3 linked regions of the Homo sapiens genome follow. The protein of the gene in region 3 purifies or fractionates together with the protein of the main gene of each other region. This does not show direct contact. Each region holds a gene or a part of one and is shown on either strand. Other genes may lie near its edges.

Evidence for each region.
Region 1: the proteins of PCDHGA6 (region 3) and TMEM200A purify together in Homo sapiens (affinity purification with mass spectrometry; one large-scale study listed by BioGRID and IntAct). This does not show direct contact.
Region 2: the proteins of PCDHGA6 (region 3) and CUEDC1 purify together in Homo sapiens (co-immunoprecipitation; one large-scale study listed by IntAct). This does not show direct contact.

What each region holds. Positions count from the first base shown.
Region 1 is NC_000006.12:130,368,896-130,372,551, reverse strand, and holds part of TMEM200A (transmembrane protein 200A), read right to left. Parts: intron 1-3,656.
Region 2 is NC_000017.11:57,861,316-57,864,971, forward strand, and holds part of CUEDC1 (CUE domain-containing protein 1), read right to left. Parts: intron 1,971-3,656; 3' UTR 1-1,970.
Region 3 is NC_000005.10:141,377,982-141,380,489, reverse strand, and holds part of PCDHGA6 (protocadherin gamma-A6 isoform 1 precursor), read right to left. Parts: exon of another isoform or gene 845-2,508; intron 1-844. UniProt on the Homo sapiens protein: Potential calcium-dependent cell-adhesion protein. May be involved in the establishment and maintenance of specific neuronal connections in the brain.

The sequences.
Region 1 (3,656 bases), on a different chromosome or scaffold from region 3:
CTTCTCATTTTTTCACATTTCAGGGCAGAGTATCTGTATGTATAAAGGTAAATTCAGGCCATGGCAGCTGGCAGAGGTCCCTTCTCTTGAACTGAAATCAGTGACTTAAATTAAGCCTTCCAAACATCTGACTTGCTGACGTATCTACCCTGCATAATGATAGAGATCCTGTACTGAGGGGAAAAAACCTACTAGATTATTAAGTTTTCTGCCAAAGCCAGATATAATCCTGCTGGACAATTCTCTTCAGACGGTCTGCTCTTATCTCACACTCAGATGTCTAAAAGTTAGCTTACTGTCTTCCTTCACAACCATATGCCCCTCCTGATTTCCCCATTTCCATCTCTCAGACTTGATATTGACCTTGTCCTGCTAGCACCAGGATGACTCCCTGAAGATCCAGGAAGAGGTCTGGATTCCAACAGATCTGGGTTCCATGCCAGCTCTTTCACTTTCCAGTCTGGCTCCAGGAGCTCGGGCAAGTCACTTAACCTTCTGAGCCTCCATTTCCTGGCTCAAGAAAAGTGGCGATGGTGGGGAGGCATAATATTTACCCTTCTGGAATTATAATGAAGATTTAGTGAGCTTACGTATCTAAGGCGCATGGCCTTACAAACGTTAGCTCCTTCCCTGATAGTGCCTGACAACTAATAAAATCCTGTCTCCCTCTGAGGAGCTGCCCATTCCATATTCTTATCAACTTACACCAGGAAGGATATTTAAAGCCATGGCAGATGGTAGAGTTCCTGTTCTCAGGTCAACAATCAAACTCCAGTTGTTCTATTGATCTGCCCATCTGTTCAACTGCCTGATAATTTTCCCATCCCCTTTCCTTGCTATACCCCAAACCCTAAATCCAGAATGGATGCATGTGATATTCTTTCCTTTCCAAGAATGTCTTACCTTGACATTCTTGTCCAGGTTGGCTCTGAGCATGAATGTTATCCACTTTCACCCTAATAACCTCTGTTCTGTGCCTTCTATTTGACCTGGAATTCTGGCACTCTCATTTCCTATCAGAAGGGCCAACCTTTAGCTGGTCCTTCAGTTTGGCCTGATACAGTGAATTTGACTTTGAGGTTGAGAGGTAGTTTTGCATAGTGGTTAAAGCAAGGCTTTGATGTCCGACTGCCAGGGTTTGAATTCCAGCTGTACTGCTTAATGGCCTCATAACCTTCAGTAAGTTATTTACCTCCCTGACTTTATATAAACATTAATATAATAACTTTAAAGTATGCAACATGAACCTACCATACTAAGTAGATCCTTGGTAAATGTCAGTTCTATACATGCCCCTAGGACTCATGGTGACCACAGGCCTCCTGTCTACACAATCTATTTGCTATTAACCTATCTACCACGCATAGCCATTTCACCTACTGGCCCAGGATGTCTTCCTAGTCTACTCCCTCCTGGCCTATTTCATTCCACAAATGCTTCTGTCAACAAAGATGCTCCTTCATCCTGACATATAACCTCATAAGAACTTCATAATATTGCTCACAAATTCTTGCTGCCATTACTCTAATTGGAAACCTATCATCTTATGCCTCCTAAATGAAAATCCTAATCTGTGCCTGCCACTCCCCTCTGTGCATTTCCAACAACCCAATGTATTTGCATAAACAATAGTTCTGTGTTAATCACTTCAGCTCCCTGTTCAAACTTTCACTGGCTCTACAATGGCCAAAGTAGGGGGTATCCAATCTCATCATCACTAGATGGGCAGGGCTTTTGGAAACAAAATCTCTGGGCTGGAAATAAGGCACAGGGATATTTGCTAGAAGTACATAGATATGAATAAATGGTGGCTTCCCATTCATTCCAGAATGGGTGTTTCCCATTCTGGAAACAATCCTCCTTTTAATAAAGTTTAAACATGAGGGCATTATTTCATCACTGGGCTATACCTTGCTTGGGAGAAAGGTCCCACTTTTGGGATACGCATTGTCTTGGGCACCTGAGTTGCTTCCATGTGCAAACTCCAGATCATTGTGCAGAGGGCTGTCCCAAAAAAGGAAGGAATTATTCCCAATAATAGACTATTGTTTTTGATTGGCAGCATTATTTTCTTGGGAGAACCACAACTCTATGTAATCTTGACAGAACTGCCTATCATAGTGCCCTACCAGCCTCCTCCTCCTCATCCCAGCACCAGAACCACATATACACAGGGTTGGGCACATGATTTAGTCCAATACAATCAGAGTAGCACTCTCTGCTAGACACAGAGACCAATTCAATTACCACTGAGCAGGGCCAATCAGAGCCCTTCAAGGAGATTTATAAAAATGGGACCTGGAAGAGAAAGGACCTCTTTTTCTCATAGATGAAAAGCCCAGGAATGTAGGTTTAGAAATACCCACAGTCATCTTTCTCCATATCCAGAAAGAGTGCCTCAGAATACAGCTGACCCAGAGAGAAGTGGGACTGAGAAATGGGGAGAGAGAGAAAGAACCTCGACAAAGTTGTGTAAGTCTCTGAGTTCCAGCCATGATTGAAGCAAGGACCACCTTTGGACTTTCTGGTCCAATGAGCCAGTAAGTCCTTTTTTGCTTTACCTAGTTAAATATTCACACATGCAAGCAAATGAATCCTGAGTAACTCCCTTCTACATGAACACAAAGTGGGGTGGTGAACACACAGTTGGGTGGTAAGCAGAGACTTGTCCCCCCTTGGTGCACTTCATGCTCAGAGCAGAGTGATTAGGGCTCTACAGGAAGGAATGTACAGACACTCATCTTACACCTTTCTAGATTTCTATGCCTTCTGTGGAATTTCACCTCTGGTGACAAAGTTTCCAAAGCACAACTTGCAGAACACATCCTATCAATTAATGATACAGTGGCCCCAGAATCCTCGCCTTTATATGAAATGCATGGATTTCCTTTTTCCAGCATCACTAAAAGCTCTTGGAAGAGTCATATCAATTACTCTGTGATAGTCAAAGCCCCAGAATTCCTGCTGGGGAAAGGGGGACCTTAGAGGAGGAGTGGGCACAGAACAGGAGCAGTAAGATTAAACATCAATAATCAGAATTCAAGGCATTTCAGGAAGTCTTGAGCTCGTAATTGGAGACTTCTGTGTTCCAGAATGTAACCTAAATTCTTACGCAGAAATTCAACCTCACCTAAAATCTGACCCTAACCTTATGTCTCTCTCCTGTTTACTCAGGGTTTCCAAAGTGAGCTTTAGCTTCTCCTATCTCTACAAATCCTGCAGAAAGGCAGTGGCGCATACTGGTGCAGATGTGCTTTGCAGTATTAGTCCCAGCTTCATCACCTTTCTGCTCTAATTACTTCCGAGGGTTGTTACAAAAATCTATTGCATCATTTGTGAAAATTCATGGAAAACCACCCAGTACTAAGTGAAAGCTGGTATTTTTATTATTTTATTATGTATTTTCAATTCACATAATCAATGTTAGGTCAGATGTCCCAGGCCAGACATCTTTTACTTCTCTTTGCCATTTCCCATTCAATACAACTAGCAAGACCCTCCAGCCTGGCTTCCTTCAACCAAAACCCTACAAACCACCCTCCTACACACACACACTGACTTCTGTCTCTCTTTAATTCTGCCAGAATTTGCCTTGCAGCATTTTAAAGAGAGACCATAAAGATCGTCAGTCCAAAGCCCTCATTCTGCAGATAAGG
Region 2 (3,656 bases), on a different chromosome or scaffold from region 3:
TGGTGTTTCCCTTGCCTGATACAGCAAGCGGTTTACAGTCCTGGGCCAAACAGGAAGGCGACAGCGCTAGACGCAGCCGGCAGGTCCGCAAGGTTGAGGTGCAGCGGTGCCGCAGGTGTCACCTCGAGAGTGCAGTCGGAGAGCGCCGCGGGTGAATGGGCCAGGCAAGGCAGGGGTACCCTAGGGATGCGACGCGGGGCTCCTGGGGACAAACCCTGCCCCAGGCCGGGAGGGAGGAGGGAGCAGGAGGGTCCAGCCCACGCCGCTGGCCACATCAGAGCACCAAGAGAACACCAACTGTTTATTACAGGAATTCCTATGAAACAGCTCCAAGAAAAAACCCACACATAGGAGGAAAAAAAATAACAAAGCAACACTCAACAGACATGGGGCTGGGGCTTCCCCCACAGTGCGCCGGGTCCTGGCGCGGGGAAGGCTCAGAGACCCGTCGAGAACTCGAGCTGGGGTACCGAGGCACTCCTCGGAGACCCCCCCCCCTCCCTCCAGGGCCCCAGGCCTGGCGCGGGGAGCAGCGGAGGGGGCGACCGCTCCTCGGCAGGGCCCCCCGAGCCAGCGTCCCGGCCCCGCGCGCGTTTCCAAACTTGGTCACGCTCGGCGGCGGCTGCGCGTCCCGGCCCTCCCCAAGCTCGGCGTTGCGAGTCCGGGCAGGGTGGGCGGGACGAGGTGCGATCGCCGGCTCGCCTTCGCTACGCCCTTGTGATCTTGGGGCCACGGAGGCCACCAGGGCCCGGCCAAGGATCGGATGCCACTCCCAACCTCCCAGAGCCGCGCCGAAGCCTCGTGCCTGCCCAGGCTTCCCGGCTCTCCGGAAGGTCTGCGCGCTCCCATGTCCAGGGCGGGGCCACGGGCTGGGCAGCCTCCCTCCCCGTGGCAGTGGTCAGTGCCGTGTAAGCGTTCCTAGAATCAGAGTTCTCCTCCTCAGATCACCCGCCCTTCTCAGGGGCACCCAGCAAGCCCTTATGCCCTAGGCGCTCACCCAGGCTGGCGGCCTTTCCGCCTTGCTCTTTAGCCCTGCACCTGCTCAAAGGGGTCACTCCAGGACCCACCGCTGCCCACCCTCGGACAGCAGGGCTTCCAGTCCAGCTGGGGAGTCAGAGCCCCTGTGAGCCCCTACTGTGGTGTGACTCCAGAACTGGCTTTTGTCTGCTGCCAAATTAAAGACCCTGCCTCCCCAGAGTCCTCCAGCTCCAGGGTGGCCACCCTCCCCATCCCTGCTGGGTGACCGGGAGCTGCTGGGAGTGAGCCCATCCCTAACAGCAGCAGCCTGATGAGGCCAGACGGGGCAGGGCAGTCGGCAGATGCTTTGCAGTAGCCCATAGCTCCTCAGAGTTCCTGGGGGACTGGCCAGGGACCTCCCACCCAGGCTGGGTGCAGGGCTCGTGTGCTGGGCCAGCAGCCCCGGGGGAAGGCTGAGATACAGGAGGACATGGAAGGGAAGGGCACAAGTGCCCGGAGGGAGCTGAGGAAGGGGGACCAGAAGGGAGCTGAGGAAAGGGGGTCAGGCAGAGTCTGTGACAGGAGAGATAGAGAACGGACGGAGGCAGAGACTCCACCTTCAGGCCAAAGAGCCTCTGGTGGGGGTCATCTTGCCCTTTTCCATATTCCAACTTTTATCTGCTTTCTGGATTTTTTTTTTTTTAAAGGGAGGTTGGTTCCTGCATTTCCACTCTTTGACCATAGGAACGCCTGGCTACAAAAGGGGCTGTAATTGGCTGCTGCCTATAGGGGCCCCAGGTCCTTCCTCCAATTGCAAGGCAGCAACTCCGAAGTTCTAAGTCCCATGGAAAGTGGCAGTGGTTGGGCTGGACTGTGGCTGGAGGATCACCGGGCCTCGGTTCTCAAGCACCATCTGTCTGGCTGCAGCTGGGCCCTTCAGCTGGGGGCCAGTGTTGCTTTCCAGCTGCCCCCACCGGGTCAGATCATCTCTGGCAAGGAAGAGCTGCTGGCATCTGGTAGGGGAAAAAAGGGATGGGAGGAATCTTTTTCAAAGGAGCCCAATGGTCTTTCCTGGTCACTGGTTCCTGGAGAGACAGTTTTGGGAGAAGTTACTAAAGACGTAAGCCCTCTCCTTTTTCCAGGGACTCGAGGTCAACCGTAGAACTCTGCCTGGGTCATCCCCCCATTCAAATTCCTAGAACCATTCCAGCTTGCCCAGCTGCAGGGACTCTGGCAGCAGGAGATGGAGTGAAGGAATGGAATCCCGGGGTGAAGCAGCTGTAGGGGAGGGCTTCAACGTGGGAGGGTACCTGGCCCATTCTAATACGTCATAGCTCAGGGGAGCTAGGCCACAAAGACCTGTAGGTGGAGAAAAGTAAACTGGGGGCAGAACTTGGTAGGACTCAGACACCAGGCTGAAGAGTTCCTAAGACTTTACTCAGAAGACTCATTCAGGCCAGGCGCAGTGGCTCACGCCTGTAATCTCAGCACTTTGGGAGGCTGAGGCGGGCCGAGGTCAGGGGTTTAAGACCAGCCTAACCAGCATGGTGAAACCCCGTCTCTACTAAAAATACAAAAATTAGCCGGGCGGGGTGGCACGTGCCTGTAATCCCAGCTACTCGGGAGGCTGAGGCAGGAGAATGGCTTGAACTTGAGAAGGGGAGGTTGCAGTGAGTGGAGATTGCACCACTGCACTCTAGCCTGGGCAACAGAGCGAGACTCCATCTCAAAAAAAAAAAAAAAAAGAAAGAAAAGAAAAAGAAAAAAAAAGATTCATTCAAAGAGCACAGGAAAAATGGAACTAAAGTGGTGTTTTGGTGGTGGGATAATCAGAGTAGGTAGGGGCAGTGAAGAGAACAGGGCTGTGACCTAGGTGATGAGCATCTATCAGGGTGGTAATGGAAGGAATAGAAAAGAGAATGAAAGGGGGCAGTCAGGAGGAGAGACTGAGTTGCTATCCAAGGCTGAAAAGAAAATCTTGGGTGCAGCTGGGGACACGAAGCAGCTCTGGAAGCCTAACTGCGATGGAGATTCAGATGTAGGAGCCAGATGCGCAGAAGTGTTGCTGGTGCTATAAAAGAGGGCGGAGGCACTGCCAGAGTGGGCAGTGAGAAGACTTCGAAGAGGGTCAAGGGCAGAGCAACAAGGAGAGCCAGTATTTAGGGAGTGGGCGGAGCAACAGGAGCCAGGAGAGAGGAAGGAGAACCTGGCTTCCTGGGGTCACAGGAGCCAAGGGAGGGCAGCTTCAGGAGAGATCAGGGGAGTGCGTGTGGAAGAGCACCATAAGAATGCAGAAGATGCTAAGGCCCTGAGCTGCTGGGTGACCTCCGAGTCAATCCGAGTGATGGGAGGGGCTGTCAGCCTGCAGTGGATGAAGGAGGATGGCAGGGAAGACTCAAGGACCCTTGGTGTTTAAGGGGAGGAGGAGGAGGATGTCAACTTGCAGAAGGAGCTGGAAGGGGACAAGCTGGAAGTCCTAGGACAGAAATAAATGATGAGGTGCAGGTACGGTGGCTCACACCTGTAATCCTAGCACTTTGGGAGGTCCAGGCGGGCAGGTCACCTGGGGTCAGATGTTCGAAACCAGCCTGGCCACATGGCAAAAATCCATCTCTACTAAAAATACAAAAACAAATTAGCCAGGCAAGATAGTGGGTGCCTATAATCCCAGCTACTCGGGAGGCTGAGGCAGGAGAATC
Region 3 (2,508 bases):
CTGAGATATTGGGAAGAATCCTGACCATTTGTTTGGTTGCATTAAAAAGAATTCTATGTAAAGTCTATTTGGCTTCCTGGGCATCGAATTGATTATCTTCTCTCTTTTCTTTTTTGGGACTTTTTTTTCTAAAAAACAAACAACAAAACAGTTCTTTGAAGTTCCATTTAGATTTTCATTCTCAAGCAAAGATATAGGTATCTTCCAATGTTTCTCCTCTGAGATTTTACTCCTTCCCCTTTGACAATTGCCACCTCAACAGAAGCCTGATCAGAAATGAATGCCTTTCAGGCCGGGCTCAGTGGCTCATGCCTGTAATCCCAGCCCTTTGAGAGGCTGAGGCGGGTGGATCACTTAAGGTCAGGAGTTTGAGACCAGCCTGGCCATCATGGTAAAACCCCATCTCTACTAAAAGTATGAAAATTAGCTAGGCATGGTGGCATGCACCTGTAATCCCAGCTACTTGGGAGGCTGAGGCAGGAGAATCGCTTGAACCCAGGAGGAGGAAGTTGCAGTGAGCAGAGATCACACCACTGCATTCCAGCCTGGGAGACAGAGCAAGACTCTGACAAAAAAAAAAAAAAAAAAAAAAAAAAAAAAGAGGCTTTCACAGACCATAAAATAAGAATAAGACAATAATTTGGTAGTTTTTTTTCCTGATGCTTCAAAATTCTATACTGAACTCTCAAAACCTCAGATAGCCTATCTTATTATTAATGATCTGTATTGCAGGTGGATTAAAGAACCTCATTTAGCCATAACTTAGCAAATTCCATGACTGCCAGGATGTTTAACAGTTGGTCAGTCCACATGAGTGAATGACTTTTGTGAGAGTAGAAGTTGGTAGTTTTTCCATCAGAGAAATATTTTATTTGTTTAAATGAAATGGTCACAGGTAATAAGAGAATAAAATAAACCAGCCTGATCTCCATGAAAAGTAGTTAGTGAGCTTTCCCTATAACAACAAATGCTCAAGATGTAGTTTAACATCCCAAATTGGTAGTATAGTAAAATAACATTCACACTTTCAGAGTTTATGAAATAATCATATGTATAACAGCCCATCTAACTCATGAGACTAATATCCAAGATTCAAGTTGTTTAAAATTGTTATTTTATCAAATTATATCACAAAGATACAAGAAAATGAGCTTTGAAGATGTGTATGATTAGATCTCTTGTTTAGGTATATACCTTTGGAAACTTGAAATAAATAAATCTATAACAATTCCTTAAATGTAAATACCACAATATTGGTTCAGAAAAACACATATTACTCTTAGCAGCTTATTTAAAAACACATCAACTCAATGTTATCTTTAAGAAGACTGACAAAGTCAGGTTACAAAGGAGGTTCTCATTTATTTTCAAGGTATCTTCTCAATTGCTTTTTTCTTACACATTCATAACAAATTCAGATGCACAAGTGGCCAATCCATTCTATAATACCACCAGATTGTAGAATCTTCCAACTCATGACTGGAGAAAAATCTTGACTATAATGTAGTTCAACAAGTCATCAAATTAGAGAATCCCCTGTACTCCATTCATTCCAGGGCCATCAACTTACTTTTGAAGACTGTCGATAACAGAATCTCCTATCTCCTTAGTGATCCATTTTCTATTCGAACATCATTGACAGTCAAAAACTCTGCTGTTTTCTGTTCATGAAACAATGATTCTGTTTGCACATTTCAGTCATAATAAATAAGACTAATCAGTCTTCTAAATGATAATCCCTTTTTTCTTGAAATATTTCAATAAAGAGTTCCTATATGATGAAAGCCTTATTGTCTGGGTTAAAATGCTAAAATATTTAAATTTTTATTTGAACCTCATTAACATTTGTTCTCCCATTCACCAGTCAGTCATCTATTTTTAGAGATATGTCCTGTAAGCAGACACTACCGAGCATGTTTTAAAATTCATGTTCACTCTTTATTTATTAATTATCATTATTATTTTTTGAGACAGAGTCTCGCTCTGTCACCCAGACTGGAGTGCAGTGGCACGATCTTGGCTCACTGCAACCTCTGCCTCATGGGTTCAAGCGATTCTCCTGCCTCAGCCTCCCGAGTAGCTGCGATTACAGGCCCATGCCACCCCACCTGGCTAATTTTTGTATTTTTAGTAGAGACGGGGTTTCACCATGTTGGTCAGGCTGGTCTCGAACTCCTGACTTCGTGAGATGCCTGCCTTGGCCTCCCAAAGTGTTGGGATTACAGGCATGAGCCACCGCACCCGGCCATTTTCACTCTTAAATACTATCAGGCACACAGTATGCAAAAGACACTGTAGTAGGCACACAGCATCGGTGCTTAGTTATTGTTAACAACCCAATAATTATAATAATGGTGATGTCAACAAATACGTGTTCACTATGCTGCTTTAGAGTTTGAAAAAAAGTTATAAAATTATTTTCTTAGAATTTGAGTCAGATAGATAAGGAAAGTCTTGTTTTAAAAAATAATATAAGTAGAGCTTATTTGAGCCAAGCTTTAGGATTGC